3 separate regions of the Homo sapiens genome follow, and regions 1 and 3 are each linked to region 2. Evidence: fine-mapped expression QTL. A gene starts in region 2. Each other region holds a variant in brackets. All regions are shown on one strand. Distances are from middle to middle. Region 1 overlaps ACTR3-AS1 (ACTR3 antisense RNA 1). Region 2 holds the start of ACTR3 (actin related protein 3). Region 3 overlaps ACTR3 (actin related protein 3).

Region 1 (10,222 bases), 30 kb after region 2:
AGAGACATACACTGACACAGATATTTTGCCTGTCAGTCTGGCTAAGGGGCTCTGCTCTGCATCTGGAGCATCACCTCAATAAGCTAGCAAAGTTCACATTTATTTAATACAGATTAAATGACAAAGGTCTCGAGTAAACACCACTAGAGGGTAATTAACATTGCTCACCCCCTGAGTAGAGAGCAATTATGCACCTGAGGTTGATCAAAGTTTGGTTTTAGGACCACATGAGTAAGCAAGCTATTTAGATAAACTTCCTCACATTCCCTTGTTATTTTCATTTTTGCTATCAGCTAAAGGTAGAGAGGATTAGGCTGCTTTCAGCCAAATCTGTTACTGAAGCAATGTAAACCCTCTCCAGCCTTACAAGAAGGTTTGTGTCTATTTCTTATAACTATCTTTAAAATTTTTTCCACCAGCCTGACTGAACTCCCACAAGCCTGGTCAACATAGCAAGACTTCATCTCTACTAAAAAAAATTAAAAATTAGCCAGGTGTGGTGGCCCATATCTATAGTCTCAGCTACTCAGAAGGCTCAGGCAGGAGGATTGCCAGAGCCCAGGAGTTCAAGGCTGCAGTGAACCATGATCACAGCACTGCACTCCAGCCTGGGTGACAGAGCAAGACCCTGCCTCTAAAAAAAAAAAAAAAAAAAAACTGTGATGAACATTGATTAATTGTAGGTACACATATATTTTTTATTATCATCTATGCTTTTTCTCATTTATAAATGTCTCCAGATCTTTTTAAATTCTGTGAGCAGAACTTCATAGCTATTAGGTTAGGCTAAAACATAATTAATGCATAAGAGACAGAACCCAGTTCCATTGAATCCAAAGGTAAATTCTAAATATCCCACATTTATCTTTTTTCTTTTAAAAATTTATTTGCTAATTTTTCTTAGCGTTCCCTTCCCCCATTTATGCTAAGAATACCCAATGTACTTATACCAGCATCATTTATAATAGTAAGCAATTAGGATGATAGGCACACTATCAAATGATATTTGGAATGGTAAGTCTAATGAATGAAATTGTGTCAATAAAAATGTTAAATTTTAAGTGTGACATACAAAATTGTATATTATATATATATATATATATATTTTTTTTTTTTTTTTTTTTTTTTTTGAGACAGAGTCTCGCTCTGTCACCCAGGCTGGAGTGCAGTGGCACGATCTCGGCTCACTGCAACTTCCACTTCCCGAGTTCAAGTGATTTTCCTGCCTCAGCCTCCCGAGTAGCTGGGATTACAGGTGTGCACCACCATGTCCAGCTAATTTTTGTATTTTTGGTAGAGATAGGGTCTCACCATGTTGCCCAGGCTGGTCTCAAACTCCTGAGCACAAGCTATCCACCCGCCTCAGCTTCCCAAAATGCTATAATTACAGGAGTGAGCCATCATGCCCAGCCTAATATACAATGTTTATGGATGCCAAAGTATGTGTCAAAAGTATAAAATCAAGTGGTAGAATGGTAAATGCTGAGTTAATAAGAGCGATTTTGATATAATGATGAATATTGAGGTAGAAGAGAAATACAATCAATAGTACATGGGGTCTCAGTGGACTGACAATGCTTTCTCTTTTTAAAGGGAAGCAAATATGTGATAATGTTAAGATTTGAAAAAGCTGAATGATGGATGGATGTGTGTTCCTATATTAGTTTCTTGCTTATGTGCGTGAACCACTTCACAGTTTTTTGAATGTCATTTGTTAAAACTTCATATTCCATTGTGCTGGTCCTTTGAACTTTTTCACTTAGTCTATTGAAATCTAGAAAACAACATGCAGACAGAATTTTGGAAGTAGAAGGGAAGAAGATCCACACAAAGTGGGGACTTGAGAGATACAAGTTACAGTTAGCAGAACAGGAAGCAAATATTCATATATTAAGAAAATTACAAAGAGGAATTCAAGTAAATAAGTTACCTAAAATTACAATAGAGGAACTAAAAATAATGAGACATCCATATTGGGAGGGAGGAGGGTGTAAGTGAACTAAGTTCTCATCTATCAGAATAGGAAGGAAGTCCACAGATAAAGCCTGTCTGTCTGATAAATAAAGAAGTGGTGATATAACTGTATTATTTAGAGATAGGGAAGTAACCACCCAGAAGAATTTTTGAAACTGTAGCCGTTAAGAAGTCAGACTTGTTCTAGGGCTTGAGTGGAAGGTAACGGGGTGGGTTGGGGGTGGGAAGGACTGGCAAAGCTTTCTTACCTCTTACAATAAGCTCTTCAGCATTGTTGACTTTTTTGTAAATATGTGCGTGTACTGCCTTGGTCAAAAAATTTTTTTGAGGATAACACAATAGTAAAACCATCAGACCCCAGAAAATGTTCCTTTCTTCAATAATCTGACCTAGTGCTGTTTCACTTTTTTTTTTTTCTTGGAGATGGAGTTTCGCTCTTGTTGCCCAGGCTGGAGTGCAATGGCACGATCTTGGCTCACTGCAACCTCCACCTCCTGGGTTCAAGGGATTCTCCTGCCACAGCCTCCCGAGTAGCTGGGATTACAGGCGCCCACCACCATGCCTGGCTAATTTTTTGTATTTTTAGTAGAGATGAGGTTTCACCATATTGGCCAGGCTGGTCTCGAACTCCTGACCTCAGGTGATCCACCTGCCTTGGCTCCCAAAGTGCTAGGATTACAGGCGTGAACCACCGCTCCTGGCCCTATTTACTTTTTCTTCTTTTTTTTTTTTTTTTTACTAAGAAAGTGAAAGCATCAAAGAATCCCTATTCACTTCTTGACCTGTGTTGTATACTTGCTTATAAATTGTGTACATTTTCATCTTTTAATTGGTATCCTGGAATGACCCTTTTTCTTTCTGTTTTTCTTCCTTTTATATTTTGCCCTCTGCAAACATTTTAGAGTTGATTTTCTGTACAAAAGGTTGAAGACTGTTCACTTATGGAAAGCTTGTTTCTGATAGACACTTAAATGAAACAAAGAAGGCTTCTATAATTCAAATGGGTTTAAAACATGCCTATGACAAACAGAGACAGAAAGTAGATTTTGGCTGAGGGAGTGGGGGTGAACAGTAACTGCTAATGGGTTGCCGTCATGTTTTCTGGGGTGGGGGATGAAAACGTTTTGGAATTAAAAGAGTGGTGATGCTTACACATCTTTGTGAATATACTAAAATCCACTAAAGTGTACACTCTAAAGGAGTGAATTTTATGGCATGTGAAATATCTTAGCAAAAAAATGCCTATGAAAAATATTGCAAGGGAATAAGCAAAAATGATAGTCACTGTGTTGTACTCAGGGGATGTTTTTTCTATTTTCTATTTCCCTAAAGTTTTGGTAATGCGATAAAAGTTTCATAATTTAAGAAATATTCTATTTATTTTATTTTTGAGACAGGGTCTCCCTCGGTTGCCCATGCTGGAGTACAGTGGTGCGATCACTGCAGCCTCAACCTCCTGGGTTCGAGTGACTCTCCCACTTCAACCTCCTGAGCAGCTGGGACCACAGGTGCATGGCACCACGCCTGGTTAATTTTTTATTTTTCATAGAGACAGGTTCTCACTGTGTTGCTCAGGCTGGTCTTGAACACCTGGGCTCAAGCAATTGTCCCACCTCAGCCTCCCAAAATGCTGGGATTACAGGCGTGAGCCGCTGTGACAGGCATAAGAAATATTTTAAAGTAACATCATTAGCCTGGATGTATGGTACCATCTTCAATCGTCCAAGTTTTCCTCTTAGTTCCATAACACTTTTTATTTTCTCCTGCACTCTAATGCACATAATTGTTCATACTGTAATCTGTTTTATTTATAGTTTTGGCTTTGGTGTTACTCTTTTTTAAAATATTGTTTTGAGACATGTTCTCTTTTTGTCACCCAGATAAGAGTGCAGTGGTGCAGTCATGGCTCACTGCAGCGTCTGCCTCCTGGACTCAAAGAATCCTCCTACCTCAGCCTCCCAAGTAGCTAGGACCACAGGTATGTACCACCACACCCAGTTATTATTATTATTTTTTTTCACAGAGACAGGATCTCACTATGTTGCCCAGGCTGGTCTCCAACTCCTAGGCTCAAGCGATCTACCTGCCTCAACCTCCCAAAGTGCTGGGATTACAGGCATGTGCCACTGGGCCTAGCCTGGCATTACTCTTACAAAGGATACACCACGGTAAGGTTATAAAAAACATTTCTATGAATTTGTGAATTTTGTTCCTAGTAGTTTTATACTTTGCTTCTTTTTTTGAGACAGAGTCTCGCTCTGTCACCCAGGCTGCAGTGCAGTGGTGCAATCTCAGCTCACTGCAACCTCCACCTCCCAAGTTCAAGTGATTCTCATTCCTCAGCCTCCTGAGTAGTAGCTGGGATTACAGGTGTGTGCCACCATGCCCGGCTAATTTTTGTATGTTTAGTAGAGATGGGGTTTTGCCTTGTTTGCCAGGCTGGTCTCGAACTCCTGGCCTCAAGAAATCCACCCACCTTGGCCTCCCAAGGTGCTGGGATTACATACATGAGCCACCGTGCCCGACTATACTTTGCTTTTTTATTAAAACATGTTCAAGTCCTTGATCTATCTGGAATTTAGCTTTGTATATGGCTTGAAAGGGAATTAATATTATTTATCTTAATCAATGGCCTGATGTCATAAACAATTCATTTTATATTATATACTGATGTTGTTTAAATAAGTGTGAGTGTGAGTGTG[AGTGTGT/T]GTGTATGTGTGTATACAAAGTCTATCTCTACATTTTCTAGTCTGTTCCTTTGACTTATTGCCTGTTCCTAAACCAGTGCCATGCTGTTCGGTTTTATGTCTAGTAGAACAAATTCCCTCTCCTTGCAGTATCTTTTATAACACAAAAATCTCACAAATAAATAAATAAAACTTGCATCCAAATATGCTAAATGACTTGCTCGTATATCATTTAGAGATACAATTCAGAGAATAATCTCAGTTTTCTGAGTTCAGTCATTTATTTGTTCTATTTAACAGATTTTTATTGAACATCTACTATATAACAGAGTCTGTTCCAGCTTCTAAGGATCCAGTAGTGAAGGAAATACAAAAATCTATGCCCTCATGGAGCAAACACATATTCAACATTATTATTCATTTTTAAATAGCTACATCTCTGCTAAATTTTCCAGTTTTTGAAAAATAAATTTTAGTTATTAATTCAGCATAATTAGAAGAGTTGAAATTTTACACTTCATATCTCACAGTTTATTTTTCTTACACATATATTTTTTATTTTATTTATTTATTTTGAGATGAGTCTCGCTCTGTTGCTCAGGCTGGAGTGCAGTGGTACAATCTCAGCTCACTGAAAACTCCACCTCCTGGGTTCAAACAATTCTCCTGCCTCAGCCTCCTGAGTAGCTGGGACTACAGGCGCACGCCACCACACACAGCTAATTTTTGTACGTTTCGTAGAGAAAGGGTTTCACCATGTTGGCCAGGCTAGTCTTGAACTCTTGACCTCAGGTGATCCACCTGTCTCAGCCTCCCAAAGTGCTGGGATTATAGGCATGAGCCACCGTCCCTGGCCACATTTTTTTTTTTAAACTCTACAGTTTCACTTCTCTTTTTTTTATGCAAAGTAGTCTCTTCTCTACATCCATGGTTGATTTCTAAAAACCCCTTTGCAGGAGAATTCCCTGTCAAGAGCGTAAGACTTTATGAAGCAAATTAGGAAAATTGAGGCCACTATTAAACTACAAAGAATACATATTTTCCTTAGCCATTTGTTCAAATAGGACAATACATCTGGCACATATTATGTATCTAAAATTAGTAATAAATTCCCATTCACCACTTCTTGCTTTGGGATAACTTTCTAGAACTTCTCTTTTATGAAGTTTCAGCAAGACACATGATTATTTTATAACACGTGATATTCATGATGAGTCTTTTTTCCCCTTTTAGTTCTGGTTGCTACATTTCTTATTTTATGACTTAAAGTTAAATTACTTACACTCTCTACACCCGAAATGATCCCAAGGGAACTGAGTAACTTGAGAGAAGTTAAATATAATTACATGTTTGGACTCTAGAGTTATACAGATCTGCTTCAGACTTAGCTCCCCTACAGAAGATGTGACTTGGACAAGCAAGGTAACCTCTCTAAGTTAGGTTTCTCCATCCATAAATTGGTAAGAATAATATGTACCTGCCTCATAGGATTGTTGAGAAAATTAAGTGAGGTACAATGTGTAAAATTAATATCTCAGTGCTTGGCACATAATCCATGTTAAATAAGTGTTAGCCAATGTTATTATTGAGATGTTTGTTAAGACCATTTCACTACAAAGAACAGCGGTTCATCTGGGTGATGGGAGCAGGGGTATCGTGACGGTATTTATGGAAATAAGGACTTTAAGGACCTTCTGGCATATCAAGAAAAGCTGTCGAGCTGGGCCTCTTGGACTCTGGAAGTCACTCAGGAACTAGAAGCATCCAGTGGAAGAGTCACCAATCTGAGTCATCTTCTTGCTGCCTTGGCAAGTTCAGGGATCCCATAAATGCAGTGACTCAGCATCCCTCCAACTGTACTGCTACCATTCCCATTTCTACTAATTTTTCAACTCTCCTATAAATACCGTTTGATTTTGGCTTACCTATAGCTTCTGCTTGTTCATAACTGCTCACTCCTCCTTTCTGATAACTCAAAACTTCAACTTATTCACAATTTGTCAGTTCCACATGAAATTTCTAGGCAATAATGTCTGTTTGACTCAGTAGTATCCCTATTGAAGCAGAGGTTCTATATGCTAAACCTCCTCGTGGGCCATAAACCCATAGAAAAACTGATGGCCTTTGGATCATGAGCACATTCCTGATTCTAGTCAGCTGAGCTGGGAGAACTGGGGGCTGAGGGGTTCTGGAAGCGGGGCAGAGAACGTGGCATAGAACATGGCCACCTTCTTAGTAGGACCTGTAGGCTCTGCAGTTACCCCCAGAAGTGGGCTGTGTGGTGACTGGCTTGTCTGTAAACTACACTTTGGGTAAATTATATCTCATCTATTCAACATAGCCAAAAAGAAATGTCTCACTCCTCCTCCATTGACAGTTTTTATTACTTTGGTTGGTTGATTTTAAAGGGCAGTAACCTAACTTGAACTAACTTAGACACAAAGAGGAATTTATTGGCTCACAGGATCCAGGAAAGGTTTAAAAAGTTGATGTCCAAGTCCAGTCTTCCCATATAACTTTGTTTCTTATTTTATTTTTATTTTTATTTTTTGAGATGGAGTCTTGCTCTGTCGCCCAGGCTGGAGTGCAGTGGCATGATCTCGGCTCACTGCAACCTCCGCCTCCCGGGTTCAAATGATTCTCAGCCTTATGAGTAGCTGGGATTACAGGCACATGCCACCACGCCCAGCTAATTTTTGTATTTTTAGTAGAGATGGGGTTTTACCATGTCGGTCAGGCTGGTCTCGAACTCCCGACCTCATGATCTGCCCGCCTCAGCCTCCCAAAGTGCTGGGATTACAGGCGTGAGCCACCGTGCCCAGCCTGTTTCTTATCTTAAAATTAAACCCTATTTCCTTTTTTTTCTGATCCCTGTAAACAGTGACTCCAAGCTCGAATGATCTAATGCTATCTCAGTGACCTGTTTCTCGCTTATATAACACTTGGCCCATATGTGTATGGTTCGTTTTTAGCTCCTCCAGTTTTCCTTCAAACTCCTTTTACTCCCTCACATTCTTCATGTTTTACTTTCTTTAGTCTTGGGATTCATGTTACTTCCCCTTCCTGTATTCTGTCTTAAGTAGCTGAGGTATCTCCATAGTGCTTCTCACTTCCTTTTAGTTTCATTCCATTCACTTCCCTAAAGTTCTCTCCTGCTTCTTCCTTGCCTTTTTCTCATTGAGCCCATGAAGTTCTCTCCACTGTCTCAAGACAAAGGTATCCCTGTTGGAGTAAGTAATCTTGATTTTCTTTCCTCAGCAAAAGTTCATGTTGGGGATCCCTGGTGCACTTTTTCTTATCCTCTTATTGCTATCTTCACTATTTCCTGAAATTCATCTTCTTGTTTTTATCCAGTCTCTTCTATTGCTCTCTTTATCTCCTCTTTCCCTTATAGAATCAGTTAATTCTCTATATTCAAAAGAGTAAATGTTACCAGGTATTTCCCATATTGCTTTGCTAGGGCTGCTATAATGGAGTATACCACAGACTGGGTGGCTTGCACAACAGAAGTTGTTCTCACAATTCTGAAGGCTATAATCCAAGGCCAATGTGTCCACAAGGTTCATCTCTTTTGAGGCCTCTCTTTGGCTTGTACATGGCCATCTTCACCCTGTATCCTCATAGGGTCTTTCCTCTCTGTGTGTCTGTCTTAATTTATGCTTTTCATGAGGACACCAGTCATATTAGATAGGGCCCGCCCTAATGACTTCATTTTAACCTAATTATCCCTTTATAGAACCTGTCTTTGTTTGTGCTGCTATAACAGAATACCACAGACTGGATAATTTGTTAAAAAAAAACAAAACAAAAAAAACCAGAAACTTATTTTTAGCAGTCTGGAGACTGGGCCAAGATCAAGGCACAGGCAGGTTCATTTTCTGGTAAGGGTCCTATCTCTGCTTCCAAGATGGTGCCTTGAATGCCATGACCTCCAGAGGGGAGGAATGCTGTGTCCTCACATGGCAGAAGGCAGAAGGACAAAAAGGGACAAACTTCCTTCATCAGGCAGAAGGCAGAAGGACAAAAAGGGACAAACTCCCTTCATCAGGCAGAAGGCAGCAGGACAAAAAGGGACAAACTTCCTTCATCAAGCCCTTTTATGAGGGCACCTCATTCCATTCATGAGGAAGGAGCCCTCATGGCCTAAACACCTCTTAAAAGCCCCACATCTTAATACGATAACATTGGCAACACTTAAATTTTTGAAGAGACAAATTCAAACCATAGCAGATTTTATCTTAAAATATACAAAATACAGTCAGTCACATTTGGCATACTAGGGGTTAGGACTTCAACATCTAAATTTGGGGGTGGGGGCAATATTCAGCCCATAGCATTGCCTTTAAAATCCAGATCAAAAATTTACTTCTTACCAGGCACAAAGGCACACACCTACCACCCCAGGCTACTTAGGAGGCTGAGGCAGGAGGACTGCTTGAGCCTAGGAGTTCACCTTCAGCCTGAGCAACACAGTGAGACTGTGTCTCTTTAAAAAAAAATTTTATTTGAATTTCTTTTCTTCTCATCCAGGAAGTTTCCTGATCCAAAGAGCTCACAGTGATTTGGTCCTCGTAGAACTTGTATCGAAGTTTTTATTCTTATCATTCATTGGTAATCAGCCTGCTGTTTTGCCATATTAAATTATTATGTGTGTTTTGTGTTGTTAATTTCTTATGTTCTATTTTATCTACCAAATAAGATGAGATGAAGATGAACCACACCTTCCACTTTCTGAATCTTCATAGTATGTGATATAGCACTTTGCTTGTTGTATGTCCTCAGTATGTAATTTTAATAATTTAGTCAATGTTCTACCACTTCAGATTCTCCTAAGTTCAAACCACATGAAAGCTGTCCACCCATTAATTGTTTTCAGTCAATTCCTAAAAAACGTGTTCTTTCAAAAAGGGTCCTATTCAGTCACATTAATAAGAATTCAGTTTGGTGAAATCAGAGCAGTTGTGGATAGTGTTTGAGGCTGACCCTATTTAGATCAAAACCAGCAGAAATTAGTGGTAAGGCTTCGATGGGGTCAGTTCAGGAAGAGGTTTTTAATAAGATAACAGTCAGAGGGAAGGTGAGGGAGTCCATTCAGTTGGCAAGAGGAATTTTGAGCACAGGACATCCCCGAGCTGCAAGTCAGGCAGAGGGACACTGCAGATGCTACTCAAGTCTGTGGCAGAGGAAGAAGCATCCGCTCAGAGGACAGCACCCTGGGTGAGTCTGAGGGAGGATGCATCCGCTCAGAGGACAGTGCCCCGGGTGAGTCTGAGAGAGAAACACTGCCTCATTACTCAGTGGGTGCAGGAGCCCTTTTTACTGACTGCTGCATTGTCAGGATCCATGGTTGATCTGTGGACAAGATTTTATCTTCCTTAGTGGAGAAAAACCCTCCTGACCCAATGAGTGTGGCCTTGCAGAGGTCCTCAGTTTTCACTTCACCAGAGACTGCTTCCACCACTGGTGCCTCAATCTCCTACCACTGGGTCTTGAAACATCTCTCCAATATTCCTAAATGGTCCTAAAAGAACACAGGGCTTGAGGCCTTTCTCACGTAGCCA
Region 2 (10,222 bases):
CGGAAGGAAGATCTAGTGTAGTGGCTCTGCCATACTTACTTGCTACAGTATCTTGGGTAAGTAGCTTAACCTCTCTTAAGACTAAATTTTCTAGCCTATAAAACAAAGATAATACTTTCCAGGTTGTTGTGAAAGTTAATGAGATAATATAAAGCATTTAGCACAGGGGCTGACATACAATTCTCGATAAATGCTAGCTATTATTATTTCCTGAGAAACACAACCTAGAGAGTAATTTTTTTCTAGAGATTAAATTTAAGCAAAGTAACAAGGAAATAGTCTAGGCATTCACATATCGGCAGGGGGGTGGGGGGGGGGAACCTAAACCAAGTAAAGATTACACAGAGGGTTTTCTCTAATTAGGTGAATCAAATTCATAAGGCTGAGATTTTTTTTTGTAAGAGTTCTTTAAACAGAAATACAGTTAACTTTACTAACAACAATGAAGCAACACATAAAGTTCTGAAAAGGCAGTCAGGAGTCCCCGGAGTGTTAACAGAAAGAACACAGGACTTAAATACAGAACTCAGGTCCAAATAGCAGATCGAACCACCTGCCAGGTAGACGGCATCAAAAAGGTAATTTAAATTCTCTCATTCTGTTTTTTCACTTATAAAATTAGGTTAAAAAATAGCTGTCACAGAAAGCATGGCCAGCAGGTCCTCCACAGGACCTTTCCGTTCTGTGCCTAAAATTCTGAACTGTGTTTTACAATAAGCCTGAAAGTTCGTTCACCGCAATATAGTATTTGCAATCCAAAGTCAATATTTCAACACAAAATTGGCAGGCAGGAAAGGAGGGAGAGTCTTTCGCTAAGTCTAAGTAAGAGTCTGACTTCTCACTAGGAGCATGTCTGTTGTACTTACTTCAAACAGCATGCAAAGCATGACTCATCAAGGAATAAGAATTTCAATGAGTGCTTTTTGGTTAAGAAGCTATTGTGAATATTTCTGCCTTTGGAGATGGCTAAAGAAATAGCATTATTAAGCCGGTGCAGTGGCTCATGTCTGTAATCCCAGCACTCTGGGAGGATGAGGTGGGTGGATCACCTGAGGTCAGGAGTTCAACAACAGCCTGGCCAACATGGTGAAACTCTGTCTCTACTAAAAATACAAAATTTAGCTGGGCGTGGTAGTGGGCGCCTATAATCCCAGCTACTTGGGAGGCTGAGGCAGAAAATCACCTGAACCCAGGAGGCAGAAGGAGGTTGCAGTGAGCCAAGATCATGCCACTGCACTCCAGCCTGGGCGATGAGAGCAAAACTCCATCTCAAAAAAAAAAAAAGAAACAGCATTATTATTAAACAATACGCACAGAATTCATGGAAGAAACATGAACTTCCCACATATACCTTCCTTCATTTACCCAGCTTTTCCCCACTGCTCTTCAAACAAGATCATTCTTATCTGCACTAATTGCTGAATTGTGGCCACAAGATGAACATACTCCTCTTTCACTGACACCTACAAGATATTTAAGCTTACATTTTAAGATTGCTAAGAAGTTGAAGTCAGTTAGCAAAATTCCTTAATCTGCTCCAGATATGAATATATCCAAGACTTTGACCATAGGGCTATATTAACCTCTGCTATCATAATCAGTGGAACTAATTTACCAATATTTTATTTACCAGGGGAAAAAAAAAGACATAAAAGGGAAAAGGAAATTCACAATGCAGCTCTGTAACCAAGCTACGATATAACAAGGAGTTAATAAGGAGCGCCCTCATTTGGCTTGAATGATGGAGAAACTTGAGTAAAAACATGCATTTAAAAAAAACCTTTAAGGCTGGGCGCGGTGGCTCACACCTGTAATCCCAGCACTTTGGGAGGTTGAGGCGGGTGGATCACGAGGTCAGGAGATGGAGACCATCCTGGTCAACATGGTGAAACCCCATCTCTACTAAAAAGAGAAAAATTAACTGGGTGTGGTGGCATGTGCCTGTAGTCCCAGCTACTCGGGAGGCTGAGGCAGGAGAATAGCTTGAACCTGGGAGGTGGAGGTTGCAGTGAGCCGAGATCGTGCCACTGCACTCCAGCCCAGCGACAGGGCAAGACTCCATCTCAAAACAAACAAACAAACAAACAAAAAAACAAAAAGCAAAAAACACATTTAAAAAACGATCCCTTCCACCGCCCAGAAAAAAAAAAACCTTAGGATGATCATACAAGTGTTACAATGTTTTTTTAAAAAATGTTTGTGAATGCCTTTTAAAGAAAATGCTTTTCTCACCACTAATAGCAGGTTTGAGTTCTGTTATTTAGTTTTCAAGCCACCAATGGGAATCTATGTGCCCCAACTGTATTTTACAATGCTTTCCAATACAGACCAAAAAAGTGTGTAGATAAGGGTATCAATGTGAATGAAGCATTTCTTTTCAAATTCTTTTCAAAATAAGTATTCTCTTTTATGACCTGAATCTAGGTGATTCATATGTTGAGTTTTGCTGGACGATCCCTAAAAGTTTTGGGCTTAAGTTTCAAGTTTCCTAACTCTTAACAGCTTTCCTATCTAAGACGATCAAGTTTTACAGATGGCCACTTTTTTTCAGCCACCTTTCCCCTAATTTATATAATGAATGAAATGAGCAACCTGATTCAGGTTATAACTTTTTACTTAAACTAAGTGAGTAATTGTAATTTAGAGACCTCAGAGCTGAATGCATTCTCTAAAGCATAAAAAAAATTAGACAAATTACAGGTGCACAATTTGCATTCGGGGACCACAGAATTTTGAAATGTAAAAGCTCCCTGTTAAGGCCATACTTAGAGATGTTTATCTCAGGGTCCTCAACCTCAAGGACTTATCCTCCATGTGCAAATAAAGCTGAAGGTGTAACTTCCCAGGAGGCACCACTGGAAACTTGTAAGACCAAAAAGGCTTTTGAGAACCAAAATAACTGAAACTCTAAAGGGGGAATTTCAGATTGTGACAAATGGTAAAAGAGAGTGAGGTGGCAAGGGGACTCCTAATCAGTTCCATTCAAATCATCAATGTGCAGTTAATAACCTCTCCTTATTGGAGAAACCAATGTAATAACTTAAAAATACACTATTGTGATAATCGTAATTTTAAAACAGAAATAGCCTAGGTTAAATTGAACCCCTCTTCCCGATCCTACTGGTCATTCAGCATGTTTTAAATTCAAGGTTGCCCTTTAGGAAAGGAGGTCACTTAAGGACAGTTTATCTCAATGAAACATCTTGTATACTAATTCGAAACTATTTCAAAAGGGGGAAAATGGAGATTAGAAAAGTAACATACTACTTGAGATGTTACCATATTATTTCTCAGGGCCACAATTATTTACACTATTTTTTTGAAAACGCAGTAATTTCTAAAGCATTAATTATGTAGCAATATTCGTCACTTTAACAAAACACATTTGAAAAGTCCTATCCTACTGACTCAGGCCAAATCTAATTTTAAAACTGAACCTAGACATAAAAATACTCACCAATTAGACTAAGAAGGGAGAAATAAAAAAAATTATTGGTTCAGAGAAATGAGACTGAATTAAGGAAAAACTTTTAAATAAAGTGTTCATCAAAAAAATACATAGAAGTTCCAAGGCTAGTGTTTTCCTAGGAGAATATTAAGAAGTTGGTGGTTTCTCTCTACCTAACTGGGATTTTAGAAACTGCCACACTAGCTAGTTATGAGAATGAAGATTAAAGAAATTTCACATAAAGAGTGAAGGACACACAATCTTTTAAGTAACAATAATGAAATCAATAATTATAATTAATAATAAAAAAAAAAGCCTGACAGTCCACCTCTTACTGACTTCCCCCTCAAAAAAAAAAAACTGGGAGTGTTCTGGGAATTGGAGAGATGTCATCAGCACAGAAAAAAAAACCACTTTCCTATATGTCATCCTGAAGCAGTGATTCTACATAAAAATAAGGGTAGTCTATTCTCTATGCAGTTATGAGTGTGGTACAACTCTCTAAAACGTCTATTAATACAAAATGAACGACCACACTTTAAAGCCACTCTACATTTTCGCAAACTACCCTACATATCTACGAGTAACTATTTGCAACTTAAACACCCTCCTATATACCTCTATACCTTCCTGCTTCCTTCAAGATACCATCACAGAATGAACGAATACAACTTAAATTAGTTTATTTTCCAGGGTGCTTCCTTTCCCCCACTCCATGAAACATAAGTACATTTTTTTAAGTCATATAAATGGACACCAAGCACCGGTAATTCAGTCTCTTTAAAACCTGCTTAAAAGTTCTAGTAAGATGTGCTCAGGTTGGAAACTAAAAACTACCTTATAAGGGTATAAAAGACTGAAAGCAGGAAGCGGCTTTGACAAAACTAAGGAAGTTGCAGCGCGCTTGCTCACTGGGGGACTTTTTTGAGGCTACAGAAGTAACACATGACATCTTTCTCCCTCGAATTAAAATGTGACTTGGTTCACCGGTTAAAACGCAGAGGGAGATGGAAATGACCAGGAGTCGAAAGGAGAAGGTGGGTGGTCAAATGAAAGCCCCACTGTAGGTTCCCATTTTCAGAGTCCGATTCTTCCCTTTCCCCACCCACACCCTGGGCAGAATGTTGTCACAGCGATCTTGTCAAACCTACCAGGAGCGCTTCTCTTTTCTAGCTCCCCTGCCAGGCCAGTCCCCGAGCTCGGCCCCTGGGTCCCCAAACCGACTGGCAAAAACGGGCGCGGAGGGAAAGGAAAGCCGGATGGGTCGGGCCCGGGGACCACCCCCAAGACGACCGTCCCCAGCGCCCTTTGGGCGGCGCTGCCCACCGTAGTGGGGGAAGGGCCGGGAGGGGTCGCGCGGAGAAAGCCGCTGGGAGGGTTGGGGGTTGAATCTCGGGCCCGCGCCCCCGCCCCAGTCCCAGGAGGGAGAAACGAGGGGACCCGCGAGGCCCTGGCTGCGGGCCCCACCCCTCGCTGGCCGGCGGGTCTAGGACTGACAGCCGGCGGCGGCACCTCGCCGCACCATTCATTTCCCGGCCTCCTCCCTCCCCCGCCATCTTCCTTCCTCCGCCTCAGTTTCCCCACCCCCGCCCGTAAGCCCCCTTACCCCGTGCCACAGTCCACCACACAGGCCGGCAGCCGTCCCGCCATCTTCCTCCTCGCCTGCTGCTGCTGCTGCCGCCGTCTGCTCCGTGCTGCTAGGGGCCAGAGATTGGCGGCGGGAGACAAGGGCTATCTGACCATCCACAGCTGGGCCGCCTTCACCGTCCGGGGGGTAGCCGGGAAGCCGAAGCAGTAGCAAGAAAGCAGCAGGCTCGGTCGGCGGCTATCACTTCCGCAACCCAGGCAGGCAGGCAGTCCCCGCCCTGCCCCGCCGCGGCCTCCTCCCCCTCTCTCTTCCCTCCTCCTCACTCCTGCCCCCACCCTACAACTTCTTCCCCTCACGCCGCCTTTCCCCGGGAAGCCAAGATGGCCGCCGGTGCCGACGCCCCGGCCAGGCCAGGCCCAGGCCCCCAGCGCTCCCCCTTCCGCTCCGAGCGGGAGGGGCTAGCGAGCATGCGCAATAAGGTACGTTCGCCTGCCTGGGCTCCGATCCTGAAGTTGGTGAAATCCACTGCGGGTTTTCCAGGAGTGTAGAGGCGGAGAAGTCTATCCGAGCTTCCAGTTCTGCTTCTGAAGCTGGAAGGGGCTTTTCGGTTGTAACCCTTGGGTTAGTTTCAGTTACTTCTTTGCTAGGTTGAGGAAAGGGTGGAAGCGCCTCCTGCAGCCACGAATATCCTCCAGTGCCTGAGAGAAAACGGCCTAATCGAAAACGTCCGCGGCATACATCCATTCTTAAAACTTGAGTGGCTGCTTTTCTGGGTGGAAAAGAGCGGTATCAGACAGGGTGAGCAGTCGGGGAACGGATGAACAAAGACTTGCACCGTGGCCCTGATGCCTTTGTTCCGAGTTCTATTCAGTTGTACTTGTGCGTTGTTACAGGACTTTAGAATGCAGCCCTGCCCCCCAACCCCCACCTCCCAGGGCCGACCTGTGCTCCTAGGAAGGCAAACCTCCCAGGAATATATTCTGCATAACTATACAAATAGGCCTTTATTCAAGGCTTTTGGATTATGACAAAGATTACCCTCAGGAGTAGTAAGATTCTACTAGCAGGATAATAGAAAGGATTAAGGCTCCCCTCCAAAGAAAATTTTTTTAAGTTAGAAACGGAGGCGAGCCGCAGTGGGTCATGCCTGTAATTTCAATGCTTTGGAAGGCCGAGGTGGGAGGATAGGATAGCTTGAGGCTAGGAGTTCGAGACCAGCCTGGGCAACATGGGGAGACCCCCCCCCATCCCTCCAAAAAAGAAAAGAAAACTGGAAAGCCTTAAAGAAACCTTTCAAACTTTAGTGTGTATCAGAATTACCTGAAAGGTTTGTTAAAACAGATTGCTGGGCCATACCCCCAGAATTCTCTGACTGGGCTATCGGAAATAATGCCTGAGAATGTGCATATCTAATAAGTTCCTAGTTCCACTTTAGGACCCTAGAAGGTTAGTATCTTTCCTCTCTACCAGGCTTATCTTAGGATGAACCGTTCGGGGTTTGCTGATGTGAAGCTAAAACAAAAATATTCTTTAAAAGGAGGGATGTCTTATTCAGTCCATAAGATCATCTAATGTATTAAGCTGGCTTGGGGGATGAATCGGGTGTTTCATTCATTCATTTGACAGGTAAGCATTGCTTACCTACTCTATTATGACGGGGTCTGTGCTGACTCCGAATATTCGGTGGGATGCAAAATAGTTAAGTGCTCTTGTAGAGTTTACAGATTAGCGGAAAACAGACAAATTGTGTTAAGAGCAATAGAAAGAAGAGAGCGGAGGACTCTGAGAAATGAAGGCGAGGAGTGGGAGAATGAGAGGAAGGTGGAAGGCAGGTAAGGAGTCTGACCAGCTGGTATTTAAAAGCTAAGATGGGGGGAAGAGTCTCCCAGGAGAGTGAACAGCAAGTGTCAAGGACCTGAGGCAGGAACAAGCTTGGCTTCTTCCACAAATTGAAAGAAGATCCATATGAAAGAGTCAGAGAAGATGCAATGGGAGATGAAGACTGAGAGATAAGGAAGAGTGAAACAGTGCAAGAATTTGTAGACTGCTCTAAGCATTTTAAAGTTTATCTTAAAAGCAGCTTGATAAATTAGATTTATGGTAATTAGTTTAAAAATAAAAATAAAGCAACTTGAAAGGATTTAGGCAAGAAAAAGTTGTGTCTGCTTTGTAGAGAATGGCTCCAGCAGAGTCCAGATTGAATCATACATTGTATGATATTCTGTGTTCCGGAGTTCGCAGATAGAAGTATGTGAGGGCCAGCATCCAAATGGAATCAGGTATGTGCAGAGGAGACTCACTAAAGGGCATCATCATCAATTAGTGCCCAGCATGTCTGCAGCTATTCACGAGAGAAGGCTTTTTTTAGAGGTTGTTTTCAGAGAAGTCAAACAACTGGTTGTCTCAGATTCGTTGTCGTTGGTTTCTCCACTACATTTTAGAAGATGCTAGATGGGGACTCTTTGCTGCCGCTTCTACTACCTGGTAATTAAAGTCTTTTGAGGAAGCATATGCTTGAAGATTGGCTCTGACAGAAAAGACAGATGTGGTTTAGTAGGGGTAGAATAAATGGTTGTTTCCAGCAGTTACAAGTAGTAAGTCAGGAGTGAAGAGATCCTACCAAAGAAGTTTCGAGAGCAGAGGTTAGTGCCCTCGGTCACTTGGGCAGCCCATGCCGGTGGCCCTCAAGGTAGCTGCCCACACTCTGGCCTTGCACAGTTGTCATGGAAGTAGTTAACTCAAGCAGGGTTGGAAACTAGTGCTTCGAGGTCTAGGCAGGTACTGTTATGAGTGAAGGGGGCCATGAGGAGGGTATGGCAATGTGAGAGCCCACAACCCAACAGAAGGCAACAGACAACTGTTGCCATGTGGAAATACAGCCCTGGTATTGCCAGAGCCTTTTTTCTTCCCCAAGAGAAATCTGAAATCTGCATTTTTATCTTTGGTAACTGTAATGGTTTGAATGTGTTCCCCAAAGTTCATGTGTGAGAAATATAATTTCCAGTGCAACAGTGCTGAGAGGTGGGAGCTTTAAGAGGTGATTAGGCCAGGAGGACACTGTCTTCATGAATGAATCACAGGACTGGGTGCCTGATAAAAAGGAGTTTGCCCCCGCTTCCCTCTCTCTCTTTTGCCCATGTGATGCCTTCCACCATGTTTTGACACAGCAGGGACGCCTTCACGAGATGATGGCCCTTTGATCTTGGACTTCCCAGCCTCTAAAACTATGAAAAATAATTTGTGTTCTCTATAAAGTACCCAGTCTCTGATATTCTGTAAGCAGCACAAACTAGGCTAAGATAGTAACTAATTTTTTTCTGCATGTCATATCTGACCTGTGGTCTGCCAGTTTGCATCTTTTGATTTCGGAAGCTACATGTGGTTCAGTAGTTTGCTGCCTTCAAATATGAAGCTCATGTCAGTGCTAAGTACTGTCTCTCATTTCATAGGCATGAGGAAACTGTCACAGTCTCACATAGTCAAGACTGTCCTGTGTTTGTACAGGCAGTAACTGTTAGAAGCATTTGGAAGCTTTCAGTGCTTGTTGGAAATGTCATTGGTGCTCATTCCTCATAATCTTGTCTACCCAAACACTTTGCTTGCTTAAGATCCCTTCTACTTCCTGCTTGCTGCATGCCAAATTGGTCAGCCTCTCTGCTACTGTGGTGGCCCAGCCTTCCTCAGCTGCACATAGCCTTCAGTCACACATCCGGCCAAAGCATTTCTGACCACCCTGTTTGCATATGCACCCACTCCCTGCTTACTCATCTCCAAACACAGAAGCAAAGGATGTCAGAGACAGTTCATCCTTCATTTCATATTTGTCCCTAATAGCACCTCAATTTCCTTTCAGTTCAGGTCAACCCGGTCCTTGGTTCTTACCCATTTCCAAACCTGTTCCGAAACTTTCAAGCATTTGTGAGTCTTGCAGTATCCTTCTCCTGTGGCTCAAGTTAGCCACAGCAAGTTCCCATTACTTGCATCAAATTTGAGAAGCCTTAGTGGTACAGAAGCCCATAGAGTTTAAGTGAGTTTTCCCAATATCTTTTTCTTTTTTTTTTTGAGATGGAATCTTGCTCTGTCGCCCAGGCTGGAGTGCAGTGTAGTGCGATCTCGGCTCACTGCAAGCTCTGCCTCCTGGGTTCATGCCATTCTCCTACCTCAGCCTCCTGAGTAGCTGGGACTACAGGCGCCCGCCACCATACCCGGCTAATTTTTTTTTTTTTTTTTTGTATTTTTTGTAGAGACGGGGTTTCACTGTGTTAGCCAGGATGGTCTCAATCTCCTGACCTCGTGATCTGCCCGCCTCGGCCTCCCAAAGTGCTGGGATTACAGGTGTGAGCCACCACTCCCGGCCCCCAATATGTTAAAGAAACTAAGGAACAGAAGTCCAAGTCAAAATCCAGTTCTTACGCCTTTTGGGGGGCTCTTTAATTGTAACGACAAATTAGCAAATTGTCTTTGGATCTTAAAAAGTGTCCAGGAAATTTATGTCACTCAATTTCCATTATTTTAAGATGAGAAATAGTATTTTAAAAATCAACTTAGGTACGTACTACAGGGCTGACTGTTTGCAAATTGGCAGATGAATCAGATTCACAGAGAGCCTTAATTCAGAGCAGGTAAGTTGTAAAAGTACCCCAAGCAGCCTAGTGGTCAGAGGGGAGGGACTGTGAAAACTGTCTTCTCTCTTCTCAAGTTGTGTGATCTTAGCAACTAACTTCTTATGTAGAGAGAGCACTGATTTTAGACTCAAGAGACTTGAATTGAGTATGAACTCTTTCACTTACTCTGTTTCTTCATCTATAAAATTCACAGGAATATTTAACCTATAGGGTTGTTGTAAAGCTTGAATTTGGTAAGAAGCCTATTATAAATTACAGAGTGACCTTATTATGGACAGATCAAGAGGAATATGGTTTAATTATAAAGTAATCACTGACTTAGTACTTAAACATACAAAAGGAAACACACACTGGTCCTCCTCTTCACAGATGTTATCTTGGGGCCCATGTGCCTACTCTTTTAATGCTACCATTGTGCAAAATATTTTTAGAAGCTCTTCTTTAGACTTGCCTTCAAAGCCTACAGCACATTGTTTTAAACATCTTCACTGGTGGCAGATCTTGCCCTCTGTGAGTAGATTTCATTTTGAGGATTAGCCAAAAGTCATTTCTTCAGAGCCA
Region 3 (10,222 bases), 34 kb before region 2:
ATGCATCACTGGGGGGTGTGCAAAAAGGTTCACCATCTTGGGAAAAGTTCCCATGAGTTTCCCTAAAAAACCAATCAGGTACCTACCCTATGACGCTGCAATTCCATACTTACGTATTTAGACAAGAGAAATGAAAACATATGTCCACAAAAAGTCTTGTAGAAGAAGGTTCACAATGGTCAAATTATTTTATTATAACCAAAAACTAGAACTAAGCCAGGCATGGTGGCAGCACTTTGAGAGGCCATGGCGGGAGGATCACTTGGAGCCCAGGAGTTCAAGACCAGCCTGGGTGACAAAGTGAGACTCCATCTCTAAACCAGAACACATTACCCAGGTGTGGTGGCCCGGGCCTGTGTGTCCTAGCTACTCAGGAATCTGAGCTGGGAGAACTGTTTGAGCTGGGAGGTCAACACTGCAATGAGCCATGATTGATCCACTGCATTCCAGCCTGAGCAACAGAGCAAAACCCTGTCTTAAAAAAACAAAAACAAAAACAAAAAAAAAACAAAAATAGCCCAGGTATTCATCAACAGGAAAATGGATAAAGTGAGGCAAATTTATACAATGGAATACTACCCAGCAACAAAAAGCAACAAATCACCAGTATATGCAACATAATTCAATCTCCAGATTATGCTAAGTAAAAGTGTTTCACCAAAATGCACATATTGCATGATTCCATTATTTGACACTCAAACATGGGCAAAGCTAATCTCAGATGAAAAAGAAACAGTGGTTGTCACTAGGGCACGGGGGCAGAGATTAATTACAAAAGGGCATGAGAAAACTTTCCACGCTGATAGTAATTTCTCTATATCTTGGTAAGAGTTTAGGTTACACAGATGTATGTAACTGACAAAGATTGGACAAATCACATCATGCATCCTGCAGGTCAAATACAGCCCACCACCTGTTTTGGTAAAAAAAAAAAATTTATTGGAACACAGACATACCTATGAATTTAAGTATTGTCTATGGCTGCTAACATGCTACAACAGCACAGCTGAGTAGCTGTGACAGGGACCATTGTATAAAAAGTTCTCATTAAGTTTCCTCAGGGACTATAACCCCTGCAAAGCCAAAAATATTTGCTATCTGCTCCCTTAGAAAGTTTGCCAAACCCTGGTCAAAATCCACTGAATGGTGCAGACCGGTGATTTTATGATATGTAAATTTTATATGAAAAGAATAACCATACACAAATGATAGCTCTAGTTGATGAAATACGTGCTAAAGTATTTAGGGGTCAAATGACTCCCATTTGCAACTCACTTTGAAGTGATTTAAAAACTAAAATGAAGTGAAAGATGGATAGACGTCATGAAGCAATTATAGCCAAATGTTAAGGTTAATCATCGAATCTAGATTGTGGGTGTATGAGTGTCCATAGTATGGTTCTTTCAACTTTATAGTCCATCACAATCACCGAAAGACACAGAATATTGATTTAACCAAAAATTGTGATGTAACTACAATGCGAGGAGTGGGAAAGGATAGGTATTTTGTGTTGAGGGAGAGAAAAGGTAAAAAGGGAAATTCTCATTTTTCCTATTAGGAAGTTGGTAAATAATGTATAATATTCTTAAAGACAGAAGAAATAAAAAAAAAATGTTAAATAAAAGAAACATGTTAAAAGATTACTAGCAGGGCAAACTTTGTTAAAATTGAAAATGTTTGCCTCCGGGGAATATGAACCAAAGGTTGGGAGAGGTAAGAAAGGAAAGTGTTATTTTGTTGTTTTAAATCTTATAAAGTCATTTGATTTTTTAAGTTATGAACATGCACTGCTTTAATAAAAAGATGTTTAATAAAAAGTTAGATTATATTGTATTTTTGTTATGAAGAAATACCAATGATATAATAATCAGACTATTGTTTTTTAAGCAAAAAAGTGCCACAGGTTTCCAACATTTTTCTGAACATTACTTACTGTTTCTATCATAAAGATTAGACATTAACTACCAAAAGCACTTCTTAAGTGTTTAACATGTGGTGCTTTGACATACTACTATTCTCCTGTAGCCATAACTAGATGGTCTTAAAGATGATACAGCTTTATTACAAAGTCATTTAGACATATGACAATTTAATAACCAAAGTATACCAAAGAAGTATGATGAAAATGTTCTCATTAAGTGTATTCAAAAATTTCCTCAGTGAAATTATAACTTGTAACTTACCAAAAGAAAATAATGGTCTTCAGGTTCTGCCCTTAAATATTTAAAGATCACTTGCTCCATAAACCTTTCCATTAAGTCCCAATCTTCAACTATACCATGGCGGATTGGCCACTATTAAAACAAAAAGGGAAATACAAATTAAATCTTATTAATATAAAAAACAAATAAAAATACAAAAAAGGAAATATCAGATCATTAGTGGATATTAGATGAGGATATATTCATAGGTGTGATACTATAGAACATCCTTAAAAGATGTGTACTTAAGGATTTAAAGATAAATTAGTTCAATAACGCATTGTCAGATGGATGGTTCAATAAAAACAAAGTGAATATGTCAAAATGTTAAAAACTGTTAAATCTACATGGAAGACCATTGTACTAGTCTTTCTAGATTTTAAAAGTTTTGTAATAAAAGGATAAGTTAGCCTACAAAAATTAAGCCTAAAAAACTATACTTTATCACAATTTCCTTAATTTTTAATGCATTAGGCCATTAACAAGTATTTGTTGTATGCCGAATATAAAAAGTGCACCTGTAAGTACATACCTAGAATAATTGTAAGAATCAAGCACATAAAATGTTATAAGAAAAGTTTTATAAATGTTTAAGAGTCATGCTTCCAAAACTGTGTGCTAAGATACCTACTATGATTTGGATGTGGTGTGTTCCCACCAAAACTCATGTTAAAATTTAATTCCCAGTGTTATAGTATCGAGAGGTGGTAGGGCCTTTAAGAGGTCATCAGGTCATTAGAGGAATTAATGCAGTTCTCAGCAGGACTGAGTTAATTCTCCAGAGGGTTGAAGGCAGGCTGTTACAAAGTGAAGTTGTCCCTTGTATTTTGTCCCTTTCCTCTTCCATTCCCCAACATGTTATGAAGCAGCATGAGGTCCTTACCAGAGGTTGATCAGATGTGGCCAACTCATCTTGGACTTCCTCACCTCCAGAACCACAAGCCAAAATAAACCTCTTTTCTTTATAAATTACTCAGTCTCAAGTATTCATTATAGCAACAGAAAATGAACTGAGACAGCACCCCAGTGTACTACCATAAATTCACAAGGGCGCCGCAAAGTTATTTTAAATTTTCCAGGGAAATATAGTGTTACTCAACATCAGTTGGACACTGCGTGATCTACAAGTCACAGTAATTCAGTTTCAACAATAAATCAAACTATTATATATTCCTTTCAATGACATTATTTCTTACAGAAGTTGGTTTGTCAGCAGTTGCTGGCATAAAAACCAAGTTATCACATAAAATAACATCGATATAAAACAAGAAATCAGGGTGGCAATGTCCCATCTGATTCCAGGTTTGAGAAGCTGAGCGATGCCTAAGCATCCTAACAGAAATGTGATTACTCAGCAGTGAAATAACGTTTCCAATTTAAGTGTCTTATTTTTTTCAAGTGGCTACTAAGTTGCCTGGACCTAGGTATTTAATAAACAGAACTATCAGACATTTCTTTCGATCTAGGTGGCACAGTGAAAAACGTTACTGAGACCCTAACGGCACTGAGAAAGTTTGTGAACCTCTGCAACAGAATATAATTCCATGAACATAATACACATTCAATACCTAAAGTTAAACAAATTAATGAACAAAGAAATAAATACCTTGCAGTATCAATCCCTAACATCTACTTCTTACTCTAGTTTCCACACTACTTTTTAAGGCATTATACTTATAAAAGGACTTCTACTCCCCAGTTTGCTTTAAGGAAGGAAAAAATTGCAGTTTACTTTATCATTCAATTTTTAACATTATTAGAAGTTTACAAATTCAAATGTTTTAAGTATTATTTATTCATCAATTATTACTGTGTACCTACTGTAAGCCACTGGCACAAATGCTAAGGACACAGACATCCAGCATACAAAAAACTCAGTCTAGCAAAAGAAATATATACGAACAAATATTACACTACAGGTTTTTAAAAAAAATAAAGTTCCGACTGGGCGTGGTGGCTCATGCCTGTAATCCCAGCACTTTGGGAGGCCAAGGCAGGCAGATCACCTGAGGTCAGGAGTTTGAGACCAGCCTGGCCAACATGGTGAAACCCCGTCTCCACTAAAAATACAAAAATTAGCCAGGCGTGGTGGTGCATGCCTATAATCCCAGCTACTCGGGAGGCTGAGACAAGAGAATCACTTGAACCCAGGAGGCGGAGGTTGCAGTGAGCCAAGATCACTCCATTGCACTCCAGCCTGGGCGATAGAGTAAGACTCTGTCTCCAAAAAAAAAAAAAAAAAAGGTGGCACGATGGCTCACGCCTGTAATCCCAGCACTTTGGGAGGTTGAGGTGGGTGGATCATTTGAGGTCAGGAGTTCAAGACCAGCCTGGCCAATATGGTGAAGCCCCATCTCCACTGAAAATACAAAAATCAGTCAGGCATGGTGGCAGGCACCTATAATCCCAGCTACTGGGGAGGCTGAGGCAGGAGAATCTCTTGAACCCAGGAGTCAGAGGTTGCAGTAGGCCAAGATCACATCACTCCACTCCAGCCTGGGCAACAGAGTAACACTCTGTCAAATAAATAAATAAATAAATAAATAAATAGTTCCTTGAATAAGATGACCACCTTGTTTTGTGAGAGAAAAGGTTTCGCTGAGGAGGTCATATCTAAGCCGGGTCTTAACTCAGTTCTGCTTTCTGGCTTTTTTTTTGGCAGGGGAATGAGAGGTATGGAGGAACTTGTGGAGAACAGAAAAAGATGTATAGAAAGACAAACACTGCATGGTATACAAAAACAAAACTGAAGTTATCAATGAGAAATTTATGTGCCAAAAGATTTGAAGGTGCGTAGAGAGATATACCAGTTCTAGATCAAAGGGACTAGATTCTCAAAAATTTTCCTTTTATTTAGGTTTTATTCTATAAGAAATAAAACAGCAGAGAAATTTTTAAGCAGGGGAATAAGAACAGCTTTAATTTTTAGGAAGACTATTATAGCAGCATTGGGAAAGCTCAAATGAAGCTTAACAGAACCAAGTGAGAACAAGAGTACCAATAGTGGTATGGACGACAAGGGGCCACATTGAAGATTTCTCAGTCAATAAGAATAAGAAAGGGCTGGGCATGGTGGCTCATACCTATAATCCCAGCACTTTGGGAGGCCAAGGTGAGAGGATGGCTTGAGCCCAGGAGTTTGAGACCAGCCTAGGCAACGTAGTGAGACCCTGTCTCTACAAAAAAAAAAAAAATTTTTAATTAGCCAGGTGTGGTGGCACACACCTGTAGTCCCCGCTACTCAGGAGGCTGAGGTGGAAGAATCACTTGAGCCCAGAGGGTCAAAGTGATTGTGGAGGGTCTTGCAGTGAGCCAAGATCTCACCACTGCATTCCAACATGGGCAACAGGGCAAGACACCTGTCTCAAAAAAAAAAAAAAAAAGAGAAAAAAGTCAGAAGATGCCAACAGGTTTCCAGCTTTGAAGTTAGGATGGACCAGATCCATTAATCAAAACATAAAAATTGTGTTTTGTCTGATCTTGGAATAAACAAGAGTGGAGTATATATAATACGTTTTGTTTTAGATATACTAAAACTCAAGAGCCAGGAAATAGGTAGGTGAAGATGTAGTCAAGGAACTGAAAGTAGAGATCTGGTCTGTGGTTGCAGACAAAGGAATGGAGGAGATCACCTAGAGAAAGTCTTTAATGAAAGAATAAAACATTGAGTCACCCCATTTTATGAGAAGAGAAAAAAAAAAAAAAGGAGAACTGAAAGCAGTGCCTAGAGAAACCAACGTTTGAGTAGTGGGTAAAGGAGAAATCAGTGACAATAGAAACAACAAATAAAAACAAACAAAACAGGCCGGGCACAGTGGCTCATGCCTGTAATCCCAGCACTTTGGGAGGCCGAGGCAGGCAGATCACGAGGTCAGGAGATTGAGACCATCCTGGCTAACACGGTGAAACCCCATCTCTACTAAAAATATAAAAAATTAGCCGGGCACGGTGGTGGGCGCCTGTAGTCCCAACTACTTGGGAGGCTGAGGCAGGAGAATGGCATGAACCCGAAGTCGAGGCTGCAGTGAGCTGAGATCGCGCCACTGCACTCTAGCCTGGGCGACAGAGCCAGGCTCCGTCTCAAAAA[C/A]AAACAAACAAACAAACAAACAAACAAACAAATATTCCATGTTAGGAAGATAACCATTAGAGTAATCCTGCAAAAGAAAGACAAATCAAGAAGGATGAAAACTGTTACATATAATTGGATTTAACAAAGAGCATATCAAATATCTTGAGACTCACTAAGAAGTGTCGTTTTAAAAGGAAAGAGAAAAATAGCTAAATTGCTGAGGACAGAAGGTAGGAATAAAGATTGAGAGAAGTTTTGTTCTGGTTTGTTAGTAGCACTTAGAAGACTTAAAAATGCGTTTAAAATGAGTGGACAGAATCAGTGGAAAGGAACTCTGGCCTCTCGACTGACTGACTTCATCACTTTCAGTGGTATCTCTTTTCCATTTTGGCCACAGTATAGATCTTATATCATCATCACTATCACCTCTCAATCGCTGAAATGCAGGTATACCCTTCTCTGATCACAACCTCTTATTATTCTAGCATACTCAACCACCTCAAGAGATCTCTTCTGAACACCAATTAAGACTTTTGGTCCACTGGTTGCTTTAATTATTCCCTAGCCATCAATATACACAGTCTAGATTTTGACCCATCACCTTTATTTCACATGTTCTTTTTTCATCCTGTCTACCAAAATCCAACCCAGCATATATCCCTAACATAAACTTGCCTATATCCAGAATGCTGATTATACCGCAGAAGCATTTGCACTAGGGTGCTAAAGACTAAGAATTCATAGTCATTATTCTCAAATGGACCTAACCTTGCCTGGCAAGCCTTTACTCTTCTACTCTGTTCCTCTTTACTCTTCACAATGACGAGTGTCAATGCCGCCCCTACCGCTAAGATTTCACCTTCTCCCCACATCCATGACCAGCAGATGATGCCACCACATATTTCGCAGAAGCAGCAGAAGCCAACAGTCAGGAATTCAAATCTGTAAAATGGATTCCATACTTAGCCTTTTTTCTCATTTACTTCCATTATAATGTAAGATATTCCGCATGTCAATTCAGTCATCTGTGTTCTGGATCTCATCCCTCCAGCTTTTTCAGAGACCTTGATTATACCTTATCTTTCCTGTTACTTTAATCTCTAATAGTTCTTTCATATTAGCATTCAGACATGTCTTCCATCTTAACGTTGAAATGTGTCTCTTCATCTCTCTCTCCCTCCCAATCACAATTGAAACTCAATGAACAGTACTCTTACTGTTACTTTTTTCCTGGCCTATCACTCAAAAGCCTACTTTCATCTAGCCCAACTACTCTTCTAAAACTATTCTCATTCAGGTTACAAATCACCACCTTGTAGCGAAAGACAGCAAATTATCTATGGGCTCTAGCTCATCTCAGCACCATTCTACAGTGTTTACCTCTACATATCTACCCATGCATTCTCAGTCTCTTTCGCAGACTTTTCCTCCTCTACTCAAACCTAACTGGCACACTGCTCTGTCTTAGTTCTCTTCCCCTGTGATATGTTCCCCTAGGTAATGTCAACCCGTCTAAGGTAACTGACACTTTCTGAATCTCTGTCTCCAGCTCTGCCTTGTTTCTTACCTCCAAAATCCACATATTTGACTCTAACAAAATCTCAGACGTCTCACAAGTACCTCAAACACAATGTGTTCAAAATTAAACTTATTTTCTCCTCTCTACACTACCCAGTCAAAAGTGTTTCTCCTTATGAAACAAGACCTCTAGCTCTCACCTTATACAAAAATCAACTCAAAATGAATTAAAGATTTAAATCTAAGACCCAAAACTATAAAAGTACTAGAAGAAAACTTAGGGGAAACCTCTCACAACATTGGTACGGGAAAAGATTTTACAAATAAGACCTCAGAAGCACAGGCAACAAAAGCAAAAATAGACAAATGGGATTATATTAAATTAAAATGCTTCTGTGAGGAAAACCATCAACAGAGGGAAAATACAAGTTATGGAATGGGTCAAAATGCCCGCAAACTGTACATCTGACAGAGGATTAACATCCAGAATATATAAGGAATTCAATTCAACAGCAAGAAAAAAAAAAAAAAACACTGATTTTTTTAAAAGGGCAAATAATCTAAATAGACATTTCTCAAAAGAAGTCACATCAACGGCCAACAAATACATGAAAAAAACGTCCAACATGACTAATCATCAGGAAAATGCAAATCAAAACCAGAAAGAAATACCGTCTCACCATAGTTAGAATGGCTATTACCCAAAAGACAAAAAAAATCACAAATGCTGGCAAGGATGTGCAGAAAAGGGAACTCATATATACTGTGGAGGGAATGTTAATAGGTAAAGCCACTATAAAGCATAGTACAGAGGCTCCTCAAAAAACCACAAATAGAACTACCATATGATCCAGCCATCCTACTATTGGGTATATACCCAAAGGAAAATAAATTACTATATCAAAGATACCTGCACCCTCATGTTTATTGCAGTACTCTTCACAATAGCCAAAATATGAAATTAACCTAAGTGTCCATACGGATATGTGTAGTATATATGCACAATACTATTCAACCATAAAAAAAGAGTGAAATCCTGTCATTCCTGGCAACACAGATGAGCCCAAAGGACATTAAGTGAAATAAGCCAGGGACTAAAAGATAAAAAATTGCATGTTCTCATTCATGTGCAAAAGCTAAAAAAATTGACTTCATGTAAGTAGAGAGTAGAAAAGTGGTTACTAGAGGCTGGAAAGGGTAGGGGAAAGAAGGGAATAGGGAGAGCTTGAATAAAGGATACAAAATTACAGCTGGATAGCAAGAATAAGTTCTAGTGTTCTATAGCACTATATGATGACTACAGTTAATTTATTATATATTTTCAGATAGTTAGAACAGAGAATTCTGAATATTCTCAACACAAAAAAATAAGTGTTTGAGGTGAATATGCTACTTACATTGACTTGATCACCACACACTGTACATATCAAAATATCACTACATACTCCATAAATATGTACAATTATTATATGTCAAGTAAAATTTTTTTAAAAGCCTGGCACAGTGGCTCATGCCTGTAATCCCACACTTTGAGAGAGGCCAACATGGGAGGGTCACTTGAGCCCAGGAGTTTGAGACGAGCATGGGCAACAGAAGGAGACCCTGTCTCTATAAAAAATAAAATAAAAGGCCGGACGCAGTGGCTCACACCTGTAATCCCAGCACTTTGGGAGGCCAAGGTGGGCAGATCACCTGAAGTCAGGAGTTCAAGGCCAGGCTGGCCAAATGGTGAAACCCCATCTCTACTAAAAACACAAAAATTAGTCCGGCGTGGTGGCACATGCCTGTAATCCCAGCTACTCAGGAGGCTGAAGCAGGAGAATCGCCTGAACCCAGGAGGTGGAGGATGCAGTGAGGTGAGATCACGCCACTGCACTCCAGCCTGGGAGACAGAGCAAGATTCCATCTCAAAAATAAAAATAAAAATAAAATAAATTAGCGAAGCATGGTGGCACACGCCTGTGGTTCCAGCTACTCAGGAGACTGAAGTGTGAAAATCTCTTGAGTCCAGAAGTTTGAGGCTGCAGTGAGTGAGCTGTGATTGTGCCACTGCACTGCAACCTAGGTGACAAAGTTGAGACCTTGTCTTAAAAATAAAATAAAATAATTTTTAGATGTTTTTCCTTTAACATTCTCAATTTCAGCAGATAAGGGATAAATAAGACTATCTCGGAGCTGGGAATTACCCTCAATTGATACATCTAGCTTATCACCAATATCCCATTCATCACGCCCTGTTACTCTTTAATTATCCACTTTTTCCTTGTCAAAACAAACAAACAAAAACCTCCCATAAATCTAATCAGACTTACATTTAACTACCATTTACAACAAAAAAAAGTAAATATAGGAAGTAGGGTACCATGTTAAATGACCCAATGAGTATGTAATAATCAGAATCCCTAGAATATAGGAAATTTTACAAGACATCTCA

The links. PIP is the estimated chance that this variant, and not a neighbour inherited with it, causes the effect.
Region 1: its variant is fine-mapped to the expression of ACTR3 in whole blood (TOPMed, PIP above 0.99).
Region 3: its variant is fine-mapped to the expression of ACTR3 in whole blood (INTERVAL, PIP 0.94).

What each region holds. Positions count from the first base shown.
Region 1 is chr2:113,855,194-113,865,415 of GRCh38, reverse strand. It overlaps ACTR3-AS1 (ACTR3 antisense RNA 1), which reads left to right. Exons shown (of 5, transcript NR_110174.1): 2 at 3,855-3,952. Among named protein-coding and RNA genes, the nearest start is that of ACTR3, 30 kb to the left of the region's middle. RefSeq lists a silencer at 3,368-3,417. The variant AGTGTGT/T (reference allele first, on the strand shown) is at 4,677.
Region 2 is chr2:113,885,156-113,895,377 of GRCh38, reverse strand. ACTR3 (actin related protein 3) reads right to left here and starts at 5,289. Exons shown (of 12, transcript NM_005721.5): 1 at 5,055-5,289. The coding sequence starts at 5,098. It overlaps ACTR3-AS1 (ACTR3 antisense RNA 1), which reads left to right and starts at 4,386. Exons shown (of 5, transcript NR_110174.1): 1 at 4,386-4,485. LOC124906071 (a long non-coding RNA gene) reads left to right here and starts at 5,611. Exons shown (of 3, transcript XR_007087205.1): 1 at 5,611-7,315. RefSeq lists enhancers at 4,349-4,528, 4,579-4,628, 4,711-5,366, 5,399-5,488, 5,609-5,918 and 2 more and silencers at 4,759-5,018, 5,259-5,318.
Region 3 is chr2:113,919,417-113,929,638 of GRCh38, reverse strand. ACTR3 (actin related protein 3) reads right to left here. Exons shown (of 12, transcript NM_005721.5): 4 at 2,184-2,294. Among named protein-coding and RNA genes, the nearest start is that of ACTR3-AS1, 34 kb to the right of the region's middle. The variant C/A (reference allele first, on the strand shown) is at 6,289.